Regions from separate parts of the Homo sapiens genome. Here region 1 is linked to region 2. Evidence: fine-mapped expression QTL. A gene starts in region 2. The other region holds a variant in brackets. All regions are shown on one strand. Distances are between the middles of the regions. Region 1 overlaps OGG1 (8-oxoguanine DNA glycosylase). Region 2 holds the start of BRPF1 (bromodomain and PHD finger containing 1).

What was found. PIP is the estimated chance that this variant, and not a neighbour inherited with it, causes the effect.
Region 1: its variant is fine-mapped to the expression of BRPF1 in whole blood (TOPMed, PIP above 0.99).

Annotation. Positions count from the first base shown.
Region 1 is chr3:9,751,697-9,756,080 of GRCh38, forward strand. It overlaps OGG1 (8-oxoguanine DNA glycosylase), which reads left to right. Exons shown (of 7, transcript NM_002542.6): 3 at 74-253; 4 at 3,008-3,189. Among named protein-coding and RNA genes, the nearest start is that of OGG1, 3.9 kb to the left of the region's middle. The variant G/A (reference allele first, on the strand shown) is at 1,815.
Region 2 is chr3:9,729,796-9,734,179 of GRCh38, forward strand. BRPF1 (bromodomain and PHD finger containing 1) reads left to right here and starts at 1,940. Exons shown (of 14, transcript NM_001003694.2): 1 at 1,940-2,343; 2 at 4,336-4,384. The coding sequence starts at 4,346. It overlaps CPNE9 (copine family member 9), which reads left to right. Exons shown (of 21, transcript NM_153635.3): 21 at 1-113. RefSeq lists enhancers at 1,376-1,935, 2,496-3,055 and silencers at 1,399-1,758, 2,229-2,278, 2,289-2,418.

The DNA.
Region 1 (4,384 bases), 22 kb after region 2:
CTGACCTGTGGGTGGGAAGAGGCCACACCCAACAGCAGGTACCTCTCCTACCCCCTGCATTTCTGGTCTCCAGGTGTGCGACTGCTGCGACAAGACCCCATCGAATGCCTTTTCTCTTTTATCTGTTCCTCCAACAACAACATCGCCCGCATCACTGGCATGGTGGAGCGGCTGTGCCAGGCTTTTGGACCTCGGCTCATCCAGCTTGATGATGTCACCTACCATGGCTTCCCCAGCCTGCAGGCCCTGGCTGGTGAGTAGGTGGGTCCCCTGCCCCCAGGCCTTCCATCAGCTTTCAAGATCTGTTCATTTCTCCCCTGGTTACCTTCTCAAGGCTTCCTGCCTTCCCAAACACTTCCCCTATCCAGAACCGCCCTGCCTGGTCTGATCAACTCCAGTTACTCATCCTCCCTATGCATCCCTAAAATGTCAGCACCTCACTGGTCTGTGCTTTTTGCCCAATGGGTTCAATGCCTAATCAGAAAAATATCTGTATACAATGTACAGTAGTTTGGGGTTAAGAGCATGCATTCTGGGGACAGACCCATGCCTGGTTCTGAACCCCAACTCTCACTTGGGCACATTATTTAGCATCTCTGTACTAAAGTTTCTTCATCTGTGAAGTAGAATAATAATAGCACCTACCTATGCTATTATTGGAGTTGTCATGAGGGTTGAAGAAAGGAATATACATACTGCACCTAGCACAGTGTTTGGCACACAGGAAGTATATGTAAAATTCAAGCTGGTATCAGCCAGGCGCAGTGGCTCACACCTGGCTAACACAGTGAAACCCCGTCTCCAGCCTGGGCAACAGAGCGAGACTCTGTCTCAAAAAAAAAAAAAAAAAAAAAAATTCAAGCTGGTATCATTGTAGTGAATGGGATAGTTTTGTATCTAAGAACACGTGTGTTCTTCACAGTAGCCCTGTAAGGCAAATGTTTTACAGAGGCAAGTGTATCGATTGGCAGATGTGAGAACCAAGCTAGGACAAGTGCTTGGGAACTGCATAGCAAAGAGACAGACTGCCTCAAAACAGGAGAATGTTTTTGGTGCTTAGAAACCCATTCCTGGCCGGGCGTGGTGGCTCACGCCTGTAATCCCAACACTTTGGGAGGTCGAGGCAGGCAGATCATCTGAGGTCAGGAGTTCAAGACCAGCCTGGCCAACATGGTGAAACCCCATCTCTACTAAAAATACGAAAATTAGTCAGGCGTGATGGCAGGCACCTGTCCCAGCTACTCCGGAGGGTGAGGCAGGAGAATTGCTTGAACCCGGGAGCAGGAGGCTCCAGTGAACCAAGATCAGACCACAGCACTCCAGCCTGGGTTACAGAGCGAGACTCCATCTCAAAACAAACAAAAAGAAACCTGGGTCAGGCACGGTGGCTCACACCTGTAATCCCAACACTTTGGGAGGCTGAGGCAGGTGGATCACCTGAGGTCGGGAGTTTGAGACCAGACTGGCCAACCTGGTGAAACCCGCTCTCTGCTAAAAATTAGCTGGGCGTGGTGGCAGGTACCTGTAATCCCAGCTACTCAGGAGGCTGAGGCGGGAGAATCATTTGAACCTGGGAAGCAGAGGTTGCAGTGAGCTGAGATCATGCCATTGCACTCCAGCCTGGGCGACAGGGCGACAGGGCGAGACTCCGTCTCAAAAAAAAAAAAAAAACCTGGCCGGGCGTGGTGGCTCACACCCGTAATCCCAGCATTTTGGGAGGCCGAGGCGGGTGGATCACGAGGTCAGGAGATCAAGACCATCCTGCCTAATACGGTGAAACCCCGTCTCTACTAAAAATACAAAAAAAATTAGCC[G/A]GGTGTGGTGGTGGGCGCCTGTAGTCCCAGCTACTTGGGAGGCTGAGGCAGGAGAATGGCGTGAACCCGGGAGGCGAAGCTTGCAGTGAGCCGAGATCGTGCCACTGCACTCCAGCCTGGGCGACAGAGTGAGACTCTGTCTCAACAAAAAAAAAAAGAAACCTGTTCTTGAGTCTCAGCTCCTGGCTTAGTTAGTCATAAGGCCTCAAGAAAGTCATTCACCTCTTCCGGCTTCTCTTAGCTTGTTTGTAGAATGGGAATAACAGTTTCTATCTAGAAGGGCTTTGGGAGTGAATAAAGCAATCATGAGGCAGTGTAGTGTAATGGGTTAAGAGCACGGCGTTAGCCAGGTGGGGTAGCTCATGCTGGTAATTTCAGCACTTTTGGGAGCCCAAGGTGGGAGGATGGCTTGAGCCCAGGAGTTTGAGACCAGCCTGGGCAACATAGTGAGACCTCATCTCTACAAAAAATAAACAAAATTAGCCAGGCATGGTGACACAAGCCTGTAGTCTCAGCTACTCAGGAGGCTGAGGTGGGAGGATCGCTTGAGCCTTAGGAGGTCAAGGCTGTAGTGAACTGAGATTGTGCCACTGCATTCCAGCCTGGGTGACAGAGCAAGACCCTGTGTCAAAAAAAGAAAAAGCACAGGTCTTGGTGTCCCAGACCTAGGTGCAAGATCTTATCTCCCCCATGTCCTTTCTTAAGTAAGTTAACCTCTTCTAAGCCCTCATTTTCTCCACATGTAAAATGGGAAAACAGCAGTACTGTCAGTGGGGTTCTTGGGAAAAGTAAGCATGATAATATATCTGAAGCATGTTGCCTAGCACTTGATCATAGAAGCTGTTGCTATATTGTGGTTATTTTTTTAGATCATGAGTGTGAACACTCTTTCGGAAAGGTTAAGGAACTCAGTTGGGGAGCTCCTCAAGGGAAGCAAGTCCTCAGTCCCTGGACTAGACTTGGGCTCCGGGGCCAATTCATAGCAGGTGCTCAGAAAACATGTGTAGAGGGACAGGACCCAGGCCTAACCCTTTCCCTTGCACATAAAAGTGTCCACTATCCCATAGAGGGTGGGGAGGTAGGAGGGGAACTTAGGAAAAGCACTCTTGTGAGGTAGAGAGCTCACTTACTAGCCTAAGGACAGGAAGAACTTGAAGATGCCTGATGCTTGCCCTCCTCCTCACTCCCCGCAGGGCCAGAGGTGGAGGCTCATCTCAGGAAGCTGGGCCTGGGCTATCGTGCCCGTTACGTGAGTGCCAGTGCCCGAGCCATCCTGGAAGAACAGGGCGGGCTAGCCTGGCTGCAGCAGCTACGAGAGTCCTCATATGAGGAGGCCCACAAGGCCCTCTGCATCCTGCCTGGAGTGGGCACCAAGGTGAGGCCCCAGGGGGTAGGAGCTGCCCTCTCTACTGACACTAAGAGGAGAGCAGGAAATGAGCCAAGCCTGGGAGCTGGGTGGAGGCTTGGCTTCCGGAGGCAGAGCAGGAAGGAGAAAGGATATAAGTAGATGTTTTATGAGAGAAAAAAGCAGAGTGCAGAAAGAGTAGAAAGGATATAGCCCTTTGAATGAATTTCTAGAAAGACCATTTGTTCAGATGCAACACATATATGCTGCTATATATATGCAGCAATTTCCAGAAGGAAATTGCAGGAAACTAAATAATAGTTTCCTTGGGGGAGACAAATGGGAAGATATTTCTTCTTTTCGGTTTTTTGTTTGTTTGTTTGTTTTGGTAGAAATAGGCTCTTAACAATGTTGCCTAGGCTGGTCTTAAACTCTTGCCCTCAAGCAGTGTTCCTGCTTTGCCCTCCCAAAGTGCTGGAATTACAGGGATGAGCCACTGCTCCCGGCCACATTTTGTTCCTTTCGTAAAATGACATGTACTGACAAAACTTTTTGCTTGATGTCAATAGGGTTAACTGGCAATAAGATGACTGGAAATTAGGCATTTGTCTTTTTTTTTTTTTTTTTGAGGTGGAGTCTTGCTTTGTTGCCAGGCTGGAGTGCAGTGGTGCAATCTCGGCTCACTGCAACCTCCGCCTCCCGGCTTCAAGCTATTCTCCTGCCTCAGCCTCCAGATTAGCTGGGATTACAGGCATGCGCCACCACACCCAGCTAATTTTTGTATTTTTAGTAGAGATGGGGTTTCACCATGTTGGGCCAGGATGGTCTCAATCTGACCTCGAGATCCACCTGCCTCAGCCTCCCAAAGTGCTGGGATTACAGGCGTGAGCCACTGCACCCAGCCTTTTTTTTTCTTTATACTTCTCTGTAGTTTAAAAAATGAATTTTTGCTTAAAGATTTTTTTTTGATGGGCTTTGGACTACAGCCTAACATTAAATCTTGGTTCTGCCTATTCTCAGCCATGTGACTTTGGCCAGGTCACTTCACCTTTCAAAGCCTCAGTTTTCTTGTCTGTAAAGTGGGTGTGGTAATACCTTCTTCCCAGGTTATGATAACCTGGCCCACATAGGTGTTCAGCTAGTAGCACCTCTTATTACAGCAATTTCAGTGTATTCATAGGCCGCGCATGGTGGCTCACGCCTGTAATCCCAGCACTTTGGGAGG
Region 2 (4,384 bases):
ACTTGGAGGATCAGTGCTGGCTGACAAGCCCTCCGCCTCCTTGCCTGCAGAGGGCCTGGCACTATCACCACCTCTCTGCCTTCATGCCAATAATAAAGCTGATCTTTATTCCACCTCTGTCTCATGCATGTTGGCGAAGGAAGACTATGGGACCCAACGACTGGGGCCACATCAAGAGGGAGGGAACCAGGATGGCTTCAGTTAGATTCATCCCCATCCTAACACGTTCATCCAATCACTTCTTCATACATTCTTCAAAGACCTTAATAAGTGAAACTTTGTATGTTTTTCCTCAGGAGAGAGGCCCATAGTTGTTTTTTTTCTTTTTTCCATAAAATCCGAATCCTACACACGACCCATAGTTCTCAGCAGATTCTCAAACGAATTCCTGACCACTAAAGGAGATAACTTAGTATAACTCTGCTTTGATCCATCTATTCTGAATTATTTTAATAAGGATAATAACAGCTAATATTTTCTTTGAACATTCACTACATGTCAAACCGTGTGCTAGGTGATTTACAAGCATCATCTCATTTAATTCTCACAACAACTCTGAGAACAGGTACTATATATTATTCCCACTTTACCCATAAGGAAACTGAGGCTCTGAGAAGATGAGTCATTTAAGATAATTCATCAGTTTGACTTCAGATCCCAAGATCTTAATCAGCAAACCTCTTCCTGGCATGTCGATTTTATTGGGATGGTTTTTAGAAAACATACATTTTATTGGGTCAAATGCAAAGTTTGCATTAAGAAGATAGAAGCTTTCAGATGCTTTGGGCTTTGTCCCAGAACCCTGGAAGACCTTTCACGCTCCTCTTTGATGACAAAACTGGAGAAGTATTGTTTAAGGATGTCTCCCCCTGCCATGCAAGTTCTCTGAAACCCTCAAGAACTAACAACAGAGTTTTCGAGCTCTGTTTTACAAATAAGGAACTTAAAGAACTGAACTTGCCCACGTTCACATTGCTAGGAGGTGACCCACTCACATTAAATCAGCTGTTTTGGCACCATGTTCCAATCAGCAACCCGCAGCACATCCCTGCCAACCCACAGATTTCCCACCGCTTTACCAGACAAGCCCTTTCACACCCACCGGCCCCAAACCAGCCCCTTCTCTCAGACCCATACCTTTTCTCTAGCACCTCTCCTTTACTTTTCCCAAGTTTCTTCCCTTTCCTTCAGTCACGCCCCGTTATCCCTAATCGGTCCTGCCCTTTCCCCACAGCTCCGCCCCTGCCTTACCAAGCCCCGCCTGCTCCCTTCAGCGTCGCATCGCTTTTTCCAACTTTGTTCTTTATTTCTAGTCCAGCTCCACTTTCCAGGCTCATCCAAAGCTCCGCCCTTTCTCTCGCGAGTACTCTTCTTCTGTTTAGCCCCACTTTTTACCCCGCTATTCTAACAGGCCCCCGCTGTGCGGTAGCCCCGCCCCCTCCCACAAGCCCCGCCCCACAGACCGGTCTAGTCTCCAGCCCCGCCCCGGTCCTACCCATAACTACCGGTCCCTTAGGCTCCAGCCCGCATCCCTCTTGCTCCCGGCCCTGCCCCCAGCCCCGCCCCGTGACTCTGGCCCCGCCTCACCGCCTTCCTCCGAGACCAAGGCCAGGTCCCTCCCGCAGCCGCGGCGCCAGCAGGAGGCAGGGAGCGGATAGGGAGGAGGCAGAGGGGGAGGGGAGAAGGGCGGGCTCCTCACGCCCAGCCCCGCGCTCACCGTCCGTGGTTGCAGATTCGCCACAAACCGCCCGACGACCCCAGATCCCGAGTACGGTGACTTCAGTCTCCAGAAACTCCACTCTAAGATGGGAGAGCTAGAGAAGCCCTGTGGGGTGTCCAGGGTCCTTTCTGAATCCCGGAGCACGGTCTTTCGAGCCTCAGCGGGCGGGCGGGGATCCGTGGCGAAAGTGCAGCTCAGTAGCGCCGCGGCGCCACGTTTACCCTGCGCAGACGCCGTCGCCGCCGCTGCTGCCGCCGCCGCTGCCACAGCCTTTGCCGCCACGGTCTCCGCCGCCGCTGTCCTCGCGCTGCCTCTGGGAGCCTCCATTGTTCCAGCAGCGCCCGGTCCCGAGACCGGGCATCTTGGGGGCTCGCGAAACGGGCGGCGGCCGACGGAGTTGAGACCCCAGGGCGCCGGCGGGACCAGGAGCGGCAGGGGTCAGCTCAGGAATCCCGGGGAGCCGGGACCAAAGCGTGGGGCGGCAGGGGGCCGGGGTGGCGAGGTCTACGGTCTCCGGAGTTGGGGCTCCCCCTTCCCGGCCCGACTTTCCCCGCCGACCTCCCCAAGTGGGGTCGGAGCCCCGGCGGGCGCCCCCGGCGATGAGCCCGGACTCGAGGTGGCCGGTGAGTGCGGGCCTGGGACCAGGGCGGGAGTGGCCGGCAGGGAAGGGGTAGGCTACGTTCGTGGGACGCGCACTGAGCCGCGTGGCCCGGGAACCTCTCTGGCAACTCCAGTTGGGAGAACTGACAGTGCATTGCTTCCCAGCAGGCATCCTGGGGCAACAGTGTATCTTTCGGGGCTGCCCGGGCTAGTGGCAGGCGGGGAGCCTTGTTTCACTTGTTACACTTCCACAAAGGGGAAACGCCGCCGCATCCGGAGAGTGGGCTGCGGGCACTGCCGGGGCCCAGCCCTATCCCTCCGGCCCCCGCCCCTTACTTCCTCCAGCCCCCTGAGCTTCAGGGGCAGATGCAGCCGCCATTCTCCTTGGGCCCTCCCCACGGGCTTTCTGGTCTAAGTTCTCGTCTCCCTCGCCTGTGCCTCTGCTGCCGGGTTCCAAGGGGAGATTGCTGATTCGCTGTGCTACTTTGGGAACCATTCACCCGGGACCCAGCTTGGAAAGAGGAGAGCTTGTTTGTGCTTCGGTTGGTTTATGTTTAAAGACACAGCCGCAGGTAGGAAATAGAAGAGTTGCAGTTGGACGTGTAGCGTTACTGATGTGAAAATCAGGAGCCGTTGACAGTGGAGCTGGAGCAGCCCACTTGCCTGGTTAAGGCACAGGTGGAGAGGCCAAGAGGGGTTATTTTGTCAGGGAGCTCATGATAGCCCTGCCTGGCTGGGATGGTGCCAAGCCCCTAGCTGAATGGTTGAACTCAACTAGGCCGAGAGAAATTGGGGCAGTCTCTGACCAAGCTGGGCTTCCTGAGGCCTGGTGCCATCTGCTGTCTACACTCACCCAGGAATGTTGGGGAGCGGGGAGGGAGGGCCCCTGCGGACCAGCATGGAGCTGAGCATGCCTAGATTGTCGCGTTCGTGTTTGTACCCTTAGGGCCTGGCACTTGGTAGTCACTCAGTTGATGTGTGAGTGGGTGAACAGCTCAAATGTAATACAAGCTGCTGTCACTGACTAAATGACCTCAGTTTTCACTTTGTTTCACAGTACATCTCCTACCCAGTACCAGGGCCAGGCTCCCCATAAAGACCTCAAAAGTAAATGAATTCTTTCTGTGATCCAGTGATTTCTGCAGGAGTCCAACGCTAAAGCATTAGCCACCCACCCATTCAGCTTTCTACATGGCCTTCATCCCATCTGAGCTCTCAGTCTGGTGATCCCCTCATTCAGCTATTCGTTCAACAGGTCATTCATTCGTTCGCCAAAAACTGAATGTCCAGTGCATGCTAGGTACTGGGGATACAGAGGTGGATAGGCTCTGGTACCCTTGCTACACAGCTCCCAGTCCAGGGGGGAGACAACTTTCAGTATGTCAAGTGCTGTGGTAGAGGTGAGAATGGAATGCTGTGGAAACAGCTCCCCATGGGAGAGTCAGAGAAGTTGTGTCAGAAGTGACATTTGAGCTGGTTTTTTGAAGAATGAGTAGGAGCCCACCAATCAGAAAGTATGGAGGGCATTCCAAATAGGGATCATTTTGCAGGAATGAGAGGTTATAACATTCAGGGAATGGCAAGATCCCCTGTGTAGACAAAAACAGCTGTAACTTGTAAAAAGAAAGGAGGACTAGGGCCAGTCAGTGAAAGGAGCTCTTTGAATGGCATCATAGAGAATTTGGAATATTATCTTGAAGGAACTGGGAGCATCAGGAGGCTTTTAATGAAGAGAGTGTCATGATCATTACTACCTGGTAGAAAGATCATTCTCCTACATGATGTGAGATTGGGCTAAAGAAGTTGAGACATAGGGCAGGATAACCAGGCAAGAGGTGATGAGGGCCCAGATATGGGCTATGGTGGAGGAGATGGCATTTGGAGACACTGTAGAGGTAGGCTGGCCAGAATCTGGTGACTCCAAGTGAGGGGGAGGGCTAGAAAGACTGGGGTCTCTGGTGCAAATGGCCAGGAACTCATCCCCAGCCTTATGTTAACTGATCTGTGTATTCTAGATGTGACAGCATGGGGGTGGACTTTGATGTGAAGACTTTCTGCCACAAC